Regions from separate parts of the Homo sapiens genome. Here region 1 is linked to region 2. Evidence: fine-mapped expression QTL. A gene starts in region 2. The other region holds a variant in brackets. All regions are shown on one strand. Distances are between the middles of the regions. Region 1 has its middle 36 kb from the start of PRSS50. Region 2 holds the start of ALS2CL (ALS2 C-terminal like).

Region 1 (5,368 bases), 60 kb after region 2:
GTAAGATCGTGGCAGCTAAAAGGAATGGTGGCTTGTGCCAGGCCTTGGGCTTCCACAGGGATTTTTTGCAGAAGGATGCTGTCTTTGGATCTGCTAGGCATGGCAGAGATTGGGAAGTGATCAGCTGGACTTGGAGCCACATTCCCTCCCCAGCCTGGCACCTAAGTGGGTCCACATGAATAGAGGTGATGTGTGCCACTTCCATGCCAAGGCAGTCAACAGGAGGTTGCCTTTTCTATTCTTGTTAATGCAGAGCATTGCTTCTCAAAGTGAGGTCTCCAGACCAGCAGTATTAGCATGAGCCAGGAACTTAGAAATGTACATTCTTTAGGTCTTTCAGGTAAATGTACATTCTTGTTAGAAACGTACATTCTTTTAAGGTCTTTCTACCTGAAAGACAGAGAATGTAGGCCCCGTCCCAGACCTACAGGATTGAAAACTCCAGGGGTGGAACCAGGAACCAGCAATCTGTAATTTTGTTTTAAGAGATGAGGTTTCCTCCAGTCCCCCAGGCTGGAGGGCAGTGGCATGATCATATATCTCTGCAGCCTCAAACTCCTGGGCTCAAGACTTCTTCCTGCTCAGCCTCCAGAGTAGCTGGGACTACAGGCACAGGCCACCATGCCCAGCTAATTTTTTTTAAGAGACATGCTACATGCTCCTGGCCTCAAGGGATCCTCCTGCCTCAGTCTCCCAAGTAGCTGGGATTATAGGGATAAGCCACTGTGCAGGCCAGTAATCTGTATTTCACAAGCCTTAGGGGATTCTGATGCAGGTAAAGCATTAACTACAGGACTGAGAGCAAGCCACGAGATGGAGAAAGCTACCTGCTGACCAAGAACGCTGTAATGGGATGTTCTAGGGAAAAAAAGTTAAATTTGTTTTATTAATCTATGAATAAATCAGTGGTTTCTTAAAGCAGGTAGTGCTATATTCATTAAGAGACTGGGTTTGATGTAAGCTCTCAGTCTCTTGGCCTCAGCCTTCCTCAGGCAACAGAAGGGACTGATACAGACTGTCCACTGAAGCCCACCCATACCTGGGGGTTAAACATTCAACCCTAGAAGGGCAAAGGGCAAGAGGCTGGGAGGGGGTTGATCAGTAGCTAGACAGAGAGACTCCAGGACACCAGACTTTGTAATGAGGGGAGAGAACCTATGTATACTACAGTGAATCTCTCTTGCCCTTCTCCCGGTGGGAACGCCTATCTTTGGTAACCAAGTGGGAGGGAGCAGCAAGGAGAAGCAGTAGATGAGGAGGAATGTTTCTCACACCCGAACTTCACTCCTGGGCCTACTTCCAGTGTCTCTTGATCCCCTATCCCTAACTGTAGAGACTGTTAAGCTCAACTACAGAGCTCCCTGCAGAGATGCTGATGGCTATAACAGGCATACAGGGAACAAGACCCATTGGCTCAAATCATCCCTAGAGCTCATGTCTGAGGAAGCAGGGCCTCACCTGTCCTTCTACATTTTAATAAGAACCACAAATAGCTTCCTTAGTTAAATGGGAAGCCAGTTCTCTATAGAGTATGTTATATTCAACCAAACTCGCCAGTGAGCAGAGCTTCAGAAACAGGAGACTCTCCAAACATTTATTCAGTTGATTTATGAAAACTCCACACTTCATAACTGCCTCAACACAACTTGTGGTGTCCCTGAAAGTGGCCACTAGGGCACTGAGGAAGGGGGTGCCAAGAATGGGTTGCTCCAAAAGAACTAGTGTGGCAGAGGCTGTCCACTCACAGATGGATCCACACTGGGCTGCAGGGGAACTTCTCCCAGCCCCAGACAACTGAGCCAGAGTGGAAGTCCCAGGCCTCACACGTCTGCAGGGACCTGGTAACGCCTCCTTCACTCTCTGTGAGCAATCACCCAGCTGGCTGGTTTCACAAAGTCTCAGGTGAGAGCCCTGAAACCAGAACCACATCTAACGCTTGCTTCACCGTTGATGATGTCTCTTCTTTGATAGATGTTCCTCCAGATATTGACGAGTCACCGTGGCCCACCTGGCAGAGCAGCTGGCCCTCTAGACCAGAGCACCAGGCAGGGGCACTTTCCAGGCCCCAGTCTCCCTGCCATGCTCTATTGTACGGATCTCCAGAGGGCCCGTGGATTCCAACTGGGATTTGC[G/A]GAAAGGGCATTGAGAAGGAGTGGGAAGTTGGTCAGAGGAGACACCTAAGTGTGAGACTCAGAAACAGCAGAAGAGTGGAATGGGGTCTGATCACGAGGTCACCAGGATGCCCAGGGGCATCACCAGACACAGGACTAGGATGAGGAAGTCTTTGAATTCAAACAGGAAGCTTGTCTCAGGTGATCAATAATCCATTTCTTGTAGAAACTAACTTCTGTGTAAACTCCAGGGTATCCTTTGCGACCGCAGCCAATGCCCCAGCTCACAATCCCCACCTGGACCCATGTGCCATTTAATTCACAGACCAGGGGCCCCCCAGAATCTCCCTGGAAAAAGAAAGACAGTCACTGTAGGAAAGAAATAGGATCCACATCAGAGCAGGCTAATTGCACTGCAATGCGCTACAGAGCTAGGCACTCAGGGGGCTTCCCCAGGAACCCCTAAGACCCTCCTAGCCTTAGGTATCTGTCAATATGAGATCTGAGAATTGACAATTTCCAATAAACCAAAATCATGTACCTACTAAAAAGGCGTGTTCCAAAAAACGGAATATACCTAATGAAATCGTGCCTACTCTGAGACAATAATGAGTCAAGTGCTAACCTGAGTACACTGCCTGTCACACAGAAGGGTCTCAAAACATGGAGCATGTATTGTTGGTGGGACCTGCCTGATTCACCCCTCCTCCCACTCCAGGCTGTGTCAGTTGCTCTCTCCTGAAGGATCAGGTAGGCTGCCCAGGAGAGCCTTGGTGGCTTGTCCTCACATCCCATTACCATGAATAAGGGTAAACAGAGGGGCTAGGAGATAACCCAGGCCCTACTGGCTGGGAATGAGGAAGCTTTGAGGAGACAATTGCAATGCTGAGGCAGCAAGACGCCCATGAACTGACCTGACAGGCATCCTTCCCTTGGTCATTATAGCCACAGACGGTCCCCCTCGTGACCATTTTACTCTTGGATATATTCTTGTTCTTGAGCATCTCACAACATTTCTCATGACGCATAATGTTTAGCTCAGTCTCCTGAAGAACAAGTGGCATTGGTCCTGAAACTGCAAAGACACAATTTACAAGAGAGTGGATCTTCACAAAGGGATAGAACAGGAGCCCCCAGTGCCCACTCTGAGTCCTGATTGGTGTGTTTAACACAACTGCCCAAATTAAAGGAAGTCAGGGCAGTGGACAATGTCACCACTTGACATAGAAGGAAACTCGAGCTTAATGTTGACATGGAGAAAGGAAAGGACAAGAAGCAAAATCAAGACAGTAAAAGGAAAAACAGATCAGGAGAGGGAGAGGCAAGGCCTTGTCAGCCTGAAAAATGGCAACCAAGTATCTGTCACTCTGAGTATCAGCAGAAATGACAGGCTGTCCTGTGCATCAGTAAAGCATCTTTACTTTCTAGAGCAGGATCACAGACTCTTAGACAGGTAGTGCCTCTCCCTAAGGATAGGAGTCCCCACAGCCTCACTGGCAGGGTTGCTCTGGCTTGGCCTACACTGCTAGGGTGAAGAAGTTCAACCCATCAAGGCAGGTCCTTCTAGTGGGGGTTGGCTCCTATTGGCAGACAGCTCATCACCCTGAGCTGAAATTTACCCTGAAGAGAACCCACTACACTTGGCCCCCAAGCCCCAAGGTCCCAATATGACGACAGAAATTCATAACATAGTTGTTAAATTACTTCCTGGCAGCATCTTCTCCACCCTCCTCCCTCACCCACCTGCTAGAAAATGGCCTCCCTGCCTCTCCCAATAGCTTGCAGGCCAAGCCCAGCCCACCAGACTGTCCCACCTCAGCATCCTGCCTGTCTCACCACTCTCTGACACTTGGCCCCATCCAGTCACCCAGCACTCTGTCCCAGCTTCCACTTCAAAAAGCTTTTCGGGGAGGCACGCAGGCTGGATATGTGAGGAATAATTCACAGAGTAGGCGAGCAGAGCAAGGGCAATGTCGCTTGTCAAAGTGGCAAAATCAAAATTGCTAGGAAAAATGATGTCTCAAACTGGGATCACCAGTGCCTCTTTGGAACCAGCATGCAAGTCAGGGTCTCCCAGCTTCACCTTGTATTCCAAATTACTGTTGAGAGAAAAGATGGCCTTCACAGAGATCCTGGGGGGACGTCTATGCTCCCCTTCCACACCTTCCAGGTGCTTCCAAGCCTGGTCCCATCTTCCTATGCCAGCCAGCAGCCACCTCCCTCCCTCCCAACCACATCCCCTCAGGACCCCTGACCACTTTAGCCAGTGGTCCCCAGATCGGCGGCGGCGGCAACACCCGGAAACTTGTTAGAAATGCAAATACTCAGGTCTCACCCAGACTGGATAAAAACTATGGGGCTGTCACCCCCTTTTACAGATGAGGAAGAGGAAGCTCAGGGAAGGGGACAGACTGGCTCCAGGTCCCACAGCCTGATCAGGGCCCAAGCTCTGAGCCCCAAACACTCACCTAAAGACACAGTGGGCGGCAGTGAGCACCCAGCGCCTGTCGATGAGGGAGCCTCCGCAGTGGTGTATGTTGCTGGTCTGCAGGCTCACCTGCCAGGGCCACTTCTTGTTTGGGGCTGGCAATCCTCCAATCATCCTTGAAACACGGTGGCCACAGGCTGGTGGGCTCAGTAAAGAGAGGGGACTGGAAGTGAAGCCACTACCTTCCCACCACCCCACCAGGCTGCCCAGGGCGGAGGCGGGTTATCTATCCTCTCTCTCAAATCATCTAGGTCAGGGTCTGACCCTCAACCTCCCTGAGCCAGGCTGTGTCCCCTTTGACCTACCCCGCAGGCCAGGACAGATCTAGCACCAGAAACAATACCCTGAGAAAACTGCCTTCCAAGGTCAGAGATTCCGTCGGATTCCAAGGCTTCTCCCACTGTAGATGCTGAAGTAACCCAGGATCCTGGAGGCCCTGCGGTCGCTGGAGACCCTGGAGCTACAGAAGTTTCTGGAATTTTGGGGAATTTCGGGTGCACAGGAGACGTCCGGGCTTCTGGGCTTGCCGGGGTCATTCTGGAATCCTCCTCGGGTCGGTATGGCTCACCTGGTGAAGACGGGGACCCGCGGCGAACAGGAGCTGGCCTGGCGGCGCCTCCTCCGCGTCTGCCTGTTCCCACAGCGCCCCCACTGCCACCCCACACCCAACGTGGGTGCAGCCCAGCCCCGCCCTGTCCACTCCCAGCCTCACTGAGCAGGGGTTGAAGGAACTGAAGCCAGATCAGGAGGTGGAGGCTCAGGCGTGTGC
Region 2 (5,368 bases):
TTCCTGCTACTGCTGCTTCGAGAGGGTGAGGCTGCAGAGAGAGAGGCAGGAAGGGGAAGCCACCAGACACCCAGCTGCAGCTTCTGTGCTGCAGCTTCTTCTCCCTCTGTGGGCCCCTGAGGCAGACCCAGGCCCCCAGGACACAGGGGGCTCCAGGTCAGCTCAGGCAGACAAGGAAAGCCCAGCCAAGGGAATAGGGGTGCAGCCAGGCCCACCTAACTCTCACCCGTATCTCCCGAAACTGCTGGAATGGAAAGGCGCTTTGGGGGTGACCTTTTCACTCTCAGCTGGCAGTCAGCTGGGGTCTAAGCTAAGAGGTGAGGATATCCAAGCCTGGTTGGGAAGGTAGAAGAAAGGGTGAGGCTAGGATAGGAGATGCAGACTAGGAACCAGATCAGTGCACGTTGAAAAGATACTGCAGTAAATAACTCGCTGCTAGGAAGACTTGAACACCAACATCCCTACACTCTCCGGGGGGCCAGCACCATGACCCCAGCCGACACCATACCCTGGCAAGGAGCTCTCTGACCCTAGAGATAGCCTCTCCTCCTCAGGCTTCCTGTCCCTCGTCCCCACTGCCCAGTCTCAGCTGCTCCCCCAGGAGCAGCCCTCACCTGGCTGCTCAGCCCTGGACATGCTTCAACTTATCCACAGCCTTACTCCTCTCTGTACCTCAGCCACCCCTCTACGAAATGGGGGTTCAACCAGATCACAGCATTTTTTTCTTTTTATTTGTTTGTATTTCTTTCTATTCTTTTTTTTTTTTTTTTTTAGAGATGGGATCTCACTATGTTGACGAGGCTGGTCTCAAACTCCTAGCCTCAAGTGATCAACCCATCTTGGCCTCCCAAAGTGCTGGGATTACAGGCGTGAGCCACTGCGCCCAGCCAAAGAGGATCACAGCTTTTCAAACTACTTAAGTCTCCCCTCAAAAGGACAAACAGGTGGAAGGGGGCTTCTCTGGGTGTGGGGATCTGGTCCTTAGACTCCCCACCCCACAAAGCAGCCTATGACTCCGGGGGTGAGTCCTCCAGACTCAAGTTGGCAACTGTTAATCTGGGAGTCTTCCACATCTGTGGCCCCAAAGGGATCTATAACCCTGGGAAACTGAGTCACACCACCCAGAGGAACGGGCAGAAGTTAAGCATGGCTGGTGAGGCAGTGGGTTGGGGGAAGGCCGCAGTGGAAGCTGGGATTCTGGTTAGGTGACCCTGAGGGACCCAGCTCCCAGGCTAGGGAGTCTGGGGCTTCATCCTGGAAGTGATGAGGAGAGTGTAAGTGCAGGGGTGAGGCAGCGTGAATGTGCATGAGTGTGCACGTTTGCAGGGCAGGAGGAGGAGGTGCTGAACCTTAATATGAGGAGGATCCTGCAGGAGTACCCCCCTCCCCAACCCCTGTCCCATCCCTAACCTTCCCCCTTCCAGTCAAGGGCATAGCTTCCTCACCCTCTCCCTCCCTCCAGTTCAAAGGTTCCTTAGTGACAGGCTGTGCCTAATGTACAGATGGGGAAACTGAGGCCCAGGAACAATGGGAGGGTCCAGAGACCCTTGTGTAGAACTTGTGCAGGGCTCAGACCCAGACTTCTGGCTCCAGCCCACCAGGTTCACCTAGCTAGATGGCTCAGAGAGGGTGGGCAACTCACCTGAGGCACAGAGCAAGATCCTGACGGGCCCTGCCTCACAGCTGTCCTCAGGCAGCCCTGATGCTCACCACGGGGTGCGGTGGGGTGGGGCAGGGTGAGGACAGAACTGGCCAGTCACGGCGTGCCCAGGTGAGTCAGCGGCTGCCCCTGTGGCGCTCTAACCAGTAGCCAGACCTGGTCTCTCCTCTGCATTCCTGGCCTCTGTCCACGCTAGGTCCCTCCCGGGCAGGGTCACTGGGGCCTTCCCTGTCCTCTCCCAGGCCTGGCTCCTTAGGCCCCTGACACACCTTGTCGTGACACTCACTCACTCTGGTATTTCCTGGTCTGAACAGGCAGGGAAGTTCTGCCTGCTGTGGAGGCTTTTTCATGGGCTGCCGTGGCAGCCCCTTCGTTGTCTGGTGCCCAGTGGGGGAGAGTAGAGACACGCACTGCCCCAGGGAGGGGGCGCTGAACTGTCACACCTGATCCCTCAGTCTCATGCTCGCCTCTCCCCGCTGCACCCTTCCTCGGCCCCACCATGGCTACAAGCCTCTTGTCCTAGACAAGCACCCCTCCCTGCTGTCGCATATGTCCCAGCTTCCCTTCCTCTCCCTGCCCAGGCACACACTCAGTCGCTGGAGTTTCCCAGACCCGAGCTCCTGTTCCGGCCGCCAGGCATTTGCCATGCCGCTCCCATGCGAAAAGGCCACCTCCTGGAATCCCGGGTCGGGCCCTTCCGCCCTAACCAGCCGGCGTCACCTCCTCCTGGCAGTCTCTCCTGCTGGCTGGGGCCCCGTGGCCCTGCCACCACGGCTCAGGTCAGGCCCGGGGCGCTGCCCCGAACCCAAGCAGGCTAGCAGCCAGGCAGGGAGGACGACGCTGTGAGCGGGGTATCTTACGAGGGACTCGGACGGCCGGGGGATGACTGCCGCCGGGACCAAGGAGCTGGGCGGGGACCGCAGCAGCCGAGGAGGCGGGAGCCCCCACCTGGACGAGCTAAGCGTGGAGCGCAGACACCCGTCCGCAGACGCGCGCCCTTCGTCGCGCCCTTACCTGAGCGCTGTGGTTGCCCCGCGCCGGGACTGCCTGTGCGGCTCCTCGCTCGCACCCCCACCCTGCCCCCTGCCAGTCCCGCCCCCTGCCAGCCCCGCCCCCTTCGCCCAGCCCCGCCCCGCCCCGCCTCCGGGTGTTGCTCTGGAGTTGCGGGGGCCACGGGCGGGCCACCGAGGAGCTGGCGCGCGGTATTGATCCGTCCCGCCGCCCCAAGCCTCTCCTGAGGCCTCCCTCTGGCGTCCCCCGGGATCCGGAGGCCCCTGGGACCCGGCGCGGGGAGGAAAAGTGGGAGTCTTGACCCCTCCGCCCCCTACGCACCCACGCGCACACTCAGGCTCGCCTCTCGCGCCCCGCTTCCCCTGCAAGGCTCCGAGGCCGCCGTGCCACCACCTCGCCCCGCCAGTCAGTCGCTCTGCGAGCCTGTGGTGCAGCCCCGTGACCTCCCGGGTCTGCCCTGAGTCACAGAAGCCAGCACACGCGGAGCGCTGTGTGGGTTCGTGGAACTTGGAGCCTGTAGAGGGGTATACTGAGGCGCCCTGCGGCCCCCTGGGCTGGGTGTCCACGGCCGGCCGCCCCTCCTGTGCGACCTTGGGGAAGTCCCCTTTCCTCCCCACTCCTGAGTCTCAACAGGCCTAGTAGAGCATGAAGCCGGCCGCGTGTGCTTTGTGCGAAGGCCTGAGACCTTGGAAAGGGTGGCTGAAGACTTATCTGGGACAGACCCCCCGGGAGCGGGAGGGAACTTAGTTCAAACCTGTAACAAAGAAGCCCCCCGTCAGCAGCCTGATTCCCCCTCTGGCCACCAGGTTAGTCACCCATTGCTCTCAGTGGCACTCAGGTTCCAGTGAGGGGGAGGCTCAGGGTCCAAGGCGGCCGTGGAAGAGCAGAAAGGGTGGCCCACCAGCCCCCTACTCAGCCCCCTACTGAGGAGGTGGGAGGCATCCCCCAACCTGCCAGGCTGAAGAGACCCCCAGTGGAGGTAAGTAGGGGCCTGGGGCCTGCCAAGCTCATCCCCTGGCTCCCTTGGGTTGTTGCGAGGTGGGAGTTTACTGTCTGCCAAGCTGCACATCACCCCTTGGAGGGTTTCCAGCCTGGGACCCTTGTCTGAGTGACTGCAGGTCCCAGTGACCTCACCCTTTTGCCCCACATTGCTCTCCTCCTGGGTCCCAATCCTGCAGAGCCGCCCCTTCCTGCTTCTCCATCCCTCCCCACATTGCCAAAGCCCGCCCTAGCTCTGGCCTCCCCTTTTCCAGCCTTGTTTTCTTGCCCCCTTCTGCACCCCCTGCTGCCTGAGGGGCTCCACTCCCAAAGGCCTTGCTCCTCTGGTCCCTGCCTGCTAGAGGTGTTGCTGTGTTGGTGGGTGGGGGCTACCTCAAGGAGGCTTCTGGTGAGGTGTCCCTCTGGCCCTCTGGGAAAGCCTCCCCTCCCCATGCCCTCCACCCCCAGGCTCCGGACCTTGGCCCCCACTCCCCTTCACAGCCCTGTTGGCCTGCGGGACTGTCTGCTGGGGCACTTGGCTCCCTGAGTCTACAGCACAGCCTGGCAGAGCCACCGCCCCAGCAGGTGGAATGAACTGAGGCTTCAGGTTCTAAACAGGCCTCCAAGGTCTTCCCTGTGGGGATCCTTTGTGCCTGTGGGGCAGTGGGAGGTAGCGGTACATTCTGGAAGAGCTGGTATGGGGCCTTGTGCTGCTTTCCTCTTGCTGTGTGATCACAGGCAGTGTGTGGCCTCTCTGTAACGTAGTGCCCCTGCTGGTGAAATATCTTACCTGCGCCTCCTTCTCGGGGTTATGTGGGACTCTGAGAGGAGGGGTATGGTGGGTTCAAGGGGCTCCTTCAGGGATGAGCACGGTTTAGAGGATCTATGGGTCCCCTAGAGCATGGGTGTGGGCCACCAGGCATCCCTGGGGCTTAGGAGGGAGGCAAGGGCTGGAGAGTGGCCATGGCCTCAGGAGGAGCATATGGCCTCACCACTTGTGACGAACAGGGACAGGTGGGGCAAGGCCCCGAGCAGGACAGATCTGATCTTATGCTAGGTGTCTCTGGGCCTCACTTTCATCATCTGCACGTGCAGCTGAGGGAAGGCAGTGCTGCCTGGGCTCGAGCAGGAAGGGAAGGGCTCCCACGGCTTCCTCCCTAGAGCACAGACTTCCTGTTCAGCCACATCTAGGGGAATAGAAAGGCTGACTGAGCTCTGGGCAGCAGACCAGTCCTTCCCCCATTCCCTGGGTGACCTCATGGGCATTGCAAGCCCAGTTTTCCTATCTGCTAAATGGGGCAAGACCTGCCCAGCCTCTCTTACAGCTCATTCTTGGCTTGGGGCCAGGTAAGGCCTCTGGTAGTGCCCAAAGGACAGCCTCTGCTGAGTCCACCTGCCTTCAGTCCCCTGCAGCACAGCCAAGGGCCCCTAGCCAATCCCACCACAGATGTGTATACCCACCCACACCACTCCCACACCCGCTGCACACAGATACAATTCCACAGTCAGGGAATGGGTGGGTCCCTGTGCCACATGGACCCATCTACCATTGAACCCACTGGTAAGGACTCCAAGTTGCACAACTCTAGTGGCAGCCCTGGGTATGCGTGTGCAGATCATGTGCCCATCCACAGGGACACAGACCTGCACACTACTCCAGGGAACACACACGTATGTGAATGGCACCTGTGATTCTGGAGCCATTGAGACTCATACCCA

The links. PIP is the estimated chance that this variant, and not a neighbour inherited with it, causes the effect.
Region 1: its variant is the best candidate, but not a certain one, in a credible set for the expression of ALS2CL in whole blood (TOPMed, PIP 0.64).

Annotation. Positions count from the first base shown.
Region 1 is chr3:46,751,463-46,756,830 of GRCh38, forward strand. It overlaps the pseudogene PRSS43P. Among named protein-coding and RNA genes, the nearest start is that of PRSS50, 36 kb to the left of the region's middle. The variant G/A (reference allele first, on the strand shown) is at 2,133.
Region 2 is chr3:46,690,969-46,696,336 of GRCh38, forward strand. ALS2CL (ALS2 C-terminal like) reads right to left here and starts at 2,711. Exons shown (of 26, transcript NM_147129.5): 1 at 2,675-2,711. It also overlaps a transcript of TMIE not described here. RefSeq lists enhancers at 1,275-2,066, 3,648-4,437 and silencers at 2,511-2,805, 2,536-2,785, 2,936-3,015.